Linked DNA regions of Homo sapiens. The protein of the gene in region 2 purifies or fractionates together with the protein of the main gene of each other region. This does not show direct contact. Each region holds a gene or a part of one and is shown on either strand. Other genes may lie near its edges. The genes, in order: SPCS2 and GPC5.

What was found.
Region 1: the proteins of GPC5 (region 2) and SPCS2 purify together in Homo sapiens (affinity purification with mass spectrometry; one large-scale study listed by BioGRID and IntAct). This does not show direct contact.

What each region holds. Positions count from the first base shown.
Region 1 is NC_000011.10:74,952,241-74,956,068, reverse strand, and holds part of SPCS2 (signal peptidase complex subunit 2), read right to left. Parts: intron 1-3,828. UniProt on the Homo sapiens protein: Component of the signal peptidase complex (SPC) which catalyzes the cleavage of N-terminal signal sequences from nascent proteins as they are translocated into the lumen of the endoplasmic reticulum.
Region 2 is NC_000013.11:91,401,593-91,405,420, reverse strand, and holds part of GPC5 (glypican-5 precursor), read right to left. Parts: intron 1-3,828. UniProt on the Homo sapiens protein: Cell surface proteoglycan that bears heparan sulfate.

The DNA.
Region 1 (3,828 bases), on a different chromosome or scaffold from region 2:
GGCAAGTGGTGTCCTAGAAGCCAAGTAAAGAAAGTATTTCAAGAAAAAAGAAGTGATCAATAAGTCAAATGCTACTGAAAGGCTAAGTAATATAAAAAACTACTATTGAAATTTGATAAGATGGAGATCAGAGCAGAGAAATGGTGCTAGCAACAGCTGAAAAAGGTACCTAGGCAGGCAGATATATATATATATATATATATATATATATATATATTTTAATTAGTAATTAAAGTAATAGTATTAAAGTAATCAGTGTCTGTGATACCACTGTGTTACATGACATATAGTTTAAAGAAATAATAATTTGAAACTTTAAGGGTTACTCCAGGAAAGACAAAAATAAGTTTCTAAAATTGCGATATAGTTCACACACTATAAAATTCACTATTTAAAAATAATGCCAATTCAGTGGTTTTTAGTATACTCACAAGGTTATGCAACCATCACCACTATCTAATTCTAGAATATATGCATACCCTCAAAAAGAAACTCCATACCCATTAGCAGTCACATCTTATTCCTGTCCCCTATCCCCGGGCAGCCAACAATCTACTTTCTGTCTCTATGGATATACAAATGCAGTCATACTATATATGGCCTTTTGTGATCGGTTTCTTTCACTTAGCGCATTTTCAGGATTCATCCATATTGTAGTATGTATCAATACTTTATTCTAACGGTCAAATTATATTCCATTGTATAGATATATCACATTGCATTTATCCATTCATCAGCTGACAGACTGTTTCTACCTTTAGGCCATTATGATAACTGTGTTATGAACATTTGTGTGCCAAGTTTTCCTGTGGACACACATTTTCAGTTCTCTTGGGTATACACCTAGGAGTGGAATTGTTGGGTCATATGGTTAACTTTACGTTGAATTTTCTGAGGAACTGTCAAACTGTTTCCAAGAGTGCCACCACATTTTACATCCCTGTTAGCGATATATGAAGATTCTGATTTCTCCATATTCTCACCAAAACAGGTTATTTTCCTTTTTTTTCCCCCTTTATTATAGCAATCTTAGTGGACGTGAAGTGGTTTCTCATTGTGGTTTTACTTTGCATTTCTCTAATGACTGATGATGTTGCGCATCTTTCCATGTGCTATGGGCCATTCGTACGTCTTCTATGGAGAAATGTCTATTTACATCTTTTGCCCTTTTAAAAACTAGGTTGCTGTCTTTTTATTACTGAGTTGTAAAATTCTTTATATAGTCTAGATGCTAGACCCTTATCAGATATATGATTTGAAAATGTTTTCTCTCATTCTGTAGATTGTCTTTTTTCACTTTCTTGATAGTGGCCTTTGACACACACATACTTTTTATTTTGAGGAAATAAAAAATAATGAGTTTTGAGACGCTAATAAAGATCAGTTTGCAACAGTATTAAAAGGCCAGCACCTTGTTTCATTAAACACACACACACAATTATAGTAATGTTATAAAACCGTTCATCTTCTTTGTCAGAGCTAGGTAACAGGGCACAAGCATATCACCTGGAAGTCTGACAAGCTAAGATATCTTCCAGTAGAGTAAAAGAGGAGATACCTAAGGACATATGGTTGGTGGGTGACAAAGCCAAGGCCACAGCCTAGGTCTTCCACCTCACAACAGATGCTCATCCCACTACTACGTTAGCTAGCACATTAGATAGCACAAGGCACACTCTGGTATGGGAAGCAATGTGCTGAGTAAAGAAAGAGCACTGGATTAAGCACTGGGGGAGCCAGGTTCTGTAAGTGTTACTAATTCACTGTGTGGTCTTGGGCAAGTTGCTTTGCTTGTGTCCTTGTCTACAAAATGAGGCTGAAGTATCATATGAGTTTCAGGATCTCTTCATTATAAACATTTTAAAGAAACCACTATTAAGCAGAATAGCTTTTAAAAACAAAACAAAAACCTTAAAATGTCAGAACCAGAAGAGACTTTAAAAAATCATTTAAGCCAGTAGTTCTCAACCTGGAGGTAACTGTTAAAATGCAGAGGTAATAGAGACATGTGAAGAAAAATGCAGATATTCAGGCCTAAAAAAAGGTCCAAAAATCTGTTAATTTTAACTAATTCTCAAAGGAGTCTGATGTAAACAGATTAAAGCTGTGCTTTAAGATCAGGCTGACAGGCCAGCCAGGAGACAGAAATCCAGGTATAAGGCTAAAAGGGTCTAGATAATAGCTTCTGGAAAGCATGGTTTAACACCACATATCAACTTTAATAGCCAAAACAAATTAAGCAAGCAGCTTTTCTTTATAACTGCCAGGCAGAAGAAAATGCTTTGATGTATTTGGGGCAAAATAACATACTGCAATGATCTAAGTCAAGTTATTCTGTGATGGAGGCGGAAAGATTATATTTGCATACTTATTTTTAAGATCAGGAAACAAGAATTGCTGTGTTCTTAAAGTCAGTTTCATAAGAGTAGAAATTCACATCTGCTTAGGGAAAACTAGGAGCATATTTGCATCTCTTTATTACACTTCTTTATGGCAAGTGAAACTACAGCTGCAGAAATAAAATAAAAACCCTCCCCGCCCAAATCAAGACACATCAAATTAAATAAATTATATTAGGCTGGGTGTGGTGGCGCACGCTTGTAAACCCCGCACTTTGGGAGGCCGAGGCCGTTGGATCACCTGAGGTCAGGAGTTTGAGACCAGCCTGGCCAACATGGTGAAACCCTGTCTCTACTAAATATACAAAAATTAGCCGGGTATGGAGGCACATGCCTGTAATCCCAGCTACTCGGGAGACTGAGGCAGGAGAATTGTTTGAACCTGGGAGGCGGGGGTTGCAGTGAGTGGAGATTGCGACAAATCGAGACTCTGTCTCAAAAAAAAAAAAAAATTATATTAAAGGTAATAGCTTCTCATTCCCACACAGCAAAAGCCTCTCTATTCATTCAGATCCTGCTCCACTGAGAATAACATTTTTTTCCCCAAGTTCTCTCCCACAGTACCCTCAGTCTTCAAACAATTAGAGGCACCATCCTCTAAAGCTGTTTCTGAAGACTGAGGTGGCAGATCTCAAGTTTTTTCTCTGCGAAATTCAATGCTAAAAGTACTTATCTTGTGTTGATCACTACAGAGAAGCACTCACAGGAAAACGGGCAAATACAAATTGGTGAAATAATACAAGACAGTATGTCATATTAAGTGACAGCTTAATTCCCATGTGCAGTGTAAGTGCTAGAGGAATTCAGGGAGGGAACAGTTCAATGTAAGGCTGAAACTAAGTTTTCCAAGAAAAGGCACTCAAGCAGCTCTTGACTATTCTCTTCTGTCCCTCACTTATTGGTTAAATCTTCCAAGCACTCTTTTGTGAGACCTTTTATCTATTTCTGCTACTCATGTTGGGGTTCTCATCACCTTGTCATTCTATTTTTTACCACAGACAGCCCTTTACAAAGAACATTTACTTCTAGTAGATTCCAAAGGACAGGGAACAGAGCTGGGTGCGGTGGCTCATGCCTGTAATTCCAGTACTTTGGGAGGCTGAGGTGGGCAGATCACTTGAGGCCAGGAGTTCACGATTAGTCTGGGCAACACAGTGAGACCTTGTCTCTACCAAAAATAAAAATAAAAATAAAATAAAAAGGGCAGAGGAAACCAAACTAAAAAACCCAAAGAACATTTACCAGCACTATACAATTTGATCCTTACAACAAGCCTATAATATGTATGAATGTCCACAATATTTACATAAGGAAATTTAAATTCAGTAATATCACACAACTTATCCAAGGTCATGTGGCTTTTATTAGGTAGGTGCAAAAGTTATCGTGGTTTTTGCCATTACTTTCAATGGCAAAAACAGCAATTACT
Region 2 (3,828 bases):
ACACCTGTGGTTTTCAACGAGGACAAGTTTGTCTCCCATGGGACAGTTGGCAAAGTCAGGAGTCATTTTTGGTCATCACGACTTGGTGGAGAGTGGTAATGCTATTGGTATCTAGTGGATGGAGGTGAGAGATGCTTCTGAACATTCTACAATACACAGGACAGCACCCCACAACAAAGAATTGCCAATCCCCCAATGTCAATGGCACTCAGGCTGAAAAACCCTAACGTATAGTAATGTAAATCATGTACAAAGCCATGAGTTGTGTAGGAGTTTGGCACATGTGCCTTTGATGTCCTCAGCCATGTATGTGACTTTATGGTAGAGAATACTGGAAACCTACAGTTCTAACGACAAAGGTGAATTTAATTTATGCTACAGAGATTTAATCCAATACTGTACAGCCACTTTAAAAAATCAGGCTTAGAAAGATATTTAACAGCATGGGAAATGGGAAATAAAGATACATTCATAATTGGAAAAGCCATGTTTTTCAAAAAGGAAATTATTCTATATTCTTTCAAAAAATAGTCATGCTTAGCAGGGGGCTGATGAGCATGCTAAAAAGACAATGCAAAGGCATTTCGGTGGTTATTTCTGGATGGTAAAATTATTTTACTTTATTTGTACTTTTCAGTTTTATAAATTTTTAAGAAAACATACATTCTTCCATAAAAACGTGGAAGTATAACATCTTCTTTTCTTTCTATAAAGGTACACTGCACATTCAACTTACATAGTAGCCATATGTGGCCCTGATGCAACTAATCAAGGGCTGTGCTGTTTGTGGTGATTCACAGAGGAATGAATAATCATTTTAGGATAATTTGGGCAATCTCATTAGTGAAATGGAAGATTTACTAAAACTGAAAAGTTCAAGAATTGAGAGCACAATCAGTGCTGCCTTTTCTTCTAGTTGAAGGTCAGGACTTTATAAAAGAAAGGTAGATATGGAAAATGGCTATTATCTATTAAAATTAATTGCTATTGTTACTTAACCAAGTAGATCAGATACCACATTCACAGAGAATATATTTCAACAGACATATGTTTCAAGTCTCTCATGACTCCATTTTAACAAATCAGATCTGTTGTTTGTCGGTTGAACAGTTATACCAAGAGACCATTCATCTATAAATTATGTCTGTTTAGTTGAGGCACCTAGCTAGAATGTTGTTCTTGGTCTTACCAGGTAACTATAAAAGAAATGTGGTAGATTTAGAAAGTGTTCTTATCAAATATAAGGACAATGTGAAAGTGGATTATACACACACACATACATGTACACACCAAAAATACCCATCTTCCGGAAAGCCTTAACAGGCTGGAAACAAGGAAAAATAATAGGGATTGGGGGGTGATAAGTGGAAAATATTATTCTTAAATTCCTCAAGTTGTACCCCTCCTAAGCCAATTTTACAACTATAGGATGTTGGACACTCGGCAAAATGGAACTTAAATTATGGGATGGAGAGAGAATGGGGACATATATAATATTTGTAGTTGATGCACTAGATTTATAGTTGACAGCAATAGTTATAATTAACCCCATGAGGGAATATGTGTGATCAGTATAGTTCAGCACCTGATGAGCCATTGGATTCTATGACCCTAAAGTAGAAAATCAAACTCACTTCTCCACCATTAAGATGCACTAAAGGCCTAGAGAAAAATGAAACACGTGATTCTCTTAGACATCAAAGCACAGACTGGACTTCCCAAGGGAAAAGGTGACAAACTGTCCTGGAAGTGGAACTGGGCCTTGATGCTCACAATTCAAGATAAATAACATGCACAGAATTAGAAAACAATGATGAGGCAAGACCACTTGGGACCTGTGGTATAAAAGGATGAGGACAAAGGCACTCTGCAACCACAAAAATAACTAAACATTCCCCTCTTTTAACCAGCACTAGCTACTACTGCTTCTTTATTTATGACAACTACCCCACCTTAATCTTTCTAACACCTAGATAAAAGTTACCAAAATAGCCAATTCCTGAATTGCCCCACTTCATTAAACCTTCCTTATAATAATAGCCCACCACAAGCCCAAATCCTATAAAAAGCCCTCCCAACTACCTACTACCAAACTCTCCAGAGTCCCTTTGGTGTGCAATCTCCCTTGCTGCAACAAACAAAATGAATCTAATTTTACTACAATCTTGTTTCCAGTGGTTCCTGGCTGGTGGGCTTCGACCCAGGGCAATCCTGATGTTAATCATCTGCCCCAATGTCAGACGACGGGTCCCAATTCTGGCTTTGGAAATTTGATCCCCACAAACACGTTGTTCAAACAGCAAAATTGGTTTCATGAGAAATAGAGTCGCAATTTCAGATTACTGTCCATGAGTGACTATGGCCACCAACATTCTAATTGTGTGAATCTGTAAACCACCTTAGAAGCACTATTTTACCTCCCTACAGACAGAAGAACGGTGGTGTGGCAGTGGAGACAGTGGTTATGGGCATTGCAGCTAGCAGCAGCGCAGCCTTGTTTCATAGAGGTTTATTAGTTCACAAAAATAAACAAAATATTCACCATAATGTAACGGATATCACTTTAGATAAAAATACATTTCCCAAATTTAAAAATAATCATTTCTGACTTGAAACCAACTCATTATTGTAAAAACATCTTTGATATATAAAGATCTAAAATTAAAATGTCATCCTTAAAAATCAAGTTAAAATCAAGACAGTAAACAAAAAAATTATAATGACAACAAGAACATATTTTCAGCACTTACTATGTGCCTGGATTTGTGACATTTTACATTATTTCATTTTATCTATGCAAACACTTTTTAAGAATATTCCTATTTCTAAATGAGAAAACAGAGGTTCAAGATGATAATTTGTCTATGAAGCAGAACTACAAGTGGTAGAACCAAGTTTTGAAAGCCAAATGTCTATCCAGTAAATCCAAACTCCAAGGTTACCAAGCAGATCATTTTTCTTAGGTGTGAGAATGAAACTACACTGTCCTTGGAGCAATAATAAGATTTGATTATAATGAAAGCAGTTTAAAAAACAACAACAACTTCAGAGCACTGCTTACAGTGTCTTTTAGTATTAAAATTTCACTTAGCCATGTCAAGAGTTTATTTTTATTACTCTATTTATAGCCAAAATCTACCAAGGAAAAGTTACTTTCACAGACTACTTGATATCGAGAGTATACTTGCTATAGATTTCTATATCAACAAACATGCATATTTCAAAAAATAGTTGGTATATAAATTATCTAAATGTATTATTTTTTATGAACTTCCCCTTTCTGAACTACCCTCTAAAAGAGGAACTACTGCATGTGTGAACAATGCACAATGCATGTGCAAAGAGAATTTTAATAGAAAAGCATTATCCCCATCCCCAATAAATAAAATAAAAATGAAAAGACCTTTAAAAGACACTTTCAGTAACAGTTCTTTTCTGAATAAAATAAACAAGAGCAAAGGGCACCTTGACTACTACTTAGAAAATAAAATCGGAACACAGGGAAATCTCTAATTCTAATCACATTTACACCTTCTCTCCTTTTTTACATTTCTCATCCAAACATCCTTAGGAGCTCAATAGGCTTAAAAGAATTGGAGCAGGGTAGAGAACAAAGGTGAGGGGAATCTGAGAAACAGTTTAAATCACTGCTCTCACAATTTTAATAATTTCAATTTGGATAACATTTTTATCAGAAAAAGTAAAAGTCACAAAGGTAGGAAGAAACTAAAAACTTATTCTACCTGCTTATATTATACAAACTGTGTTTTGGCTAGACATCTCAGGGATTAACCACTGTGAACAAGAAATGCAAGAAAGCAGTAAAAA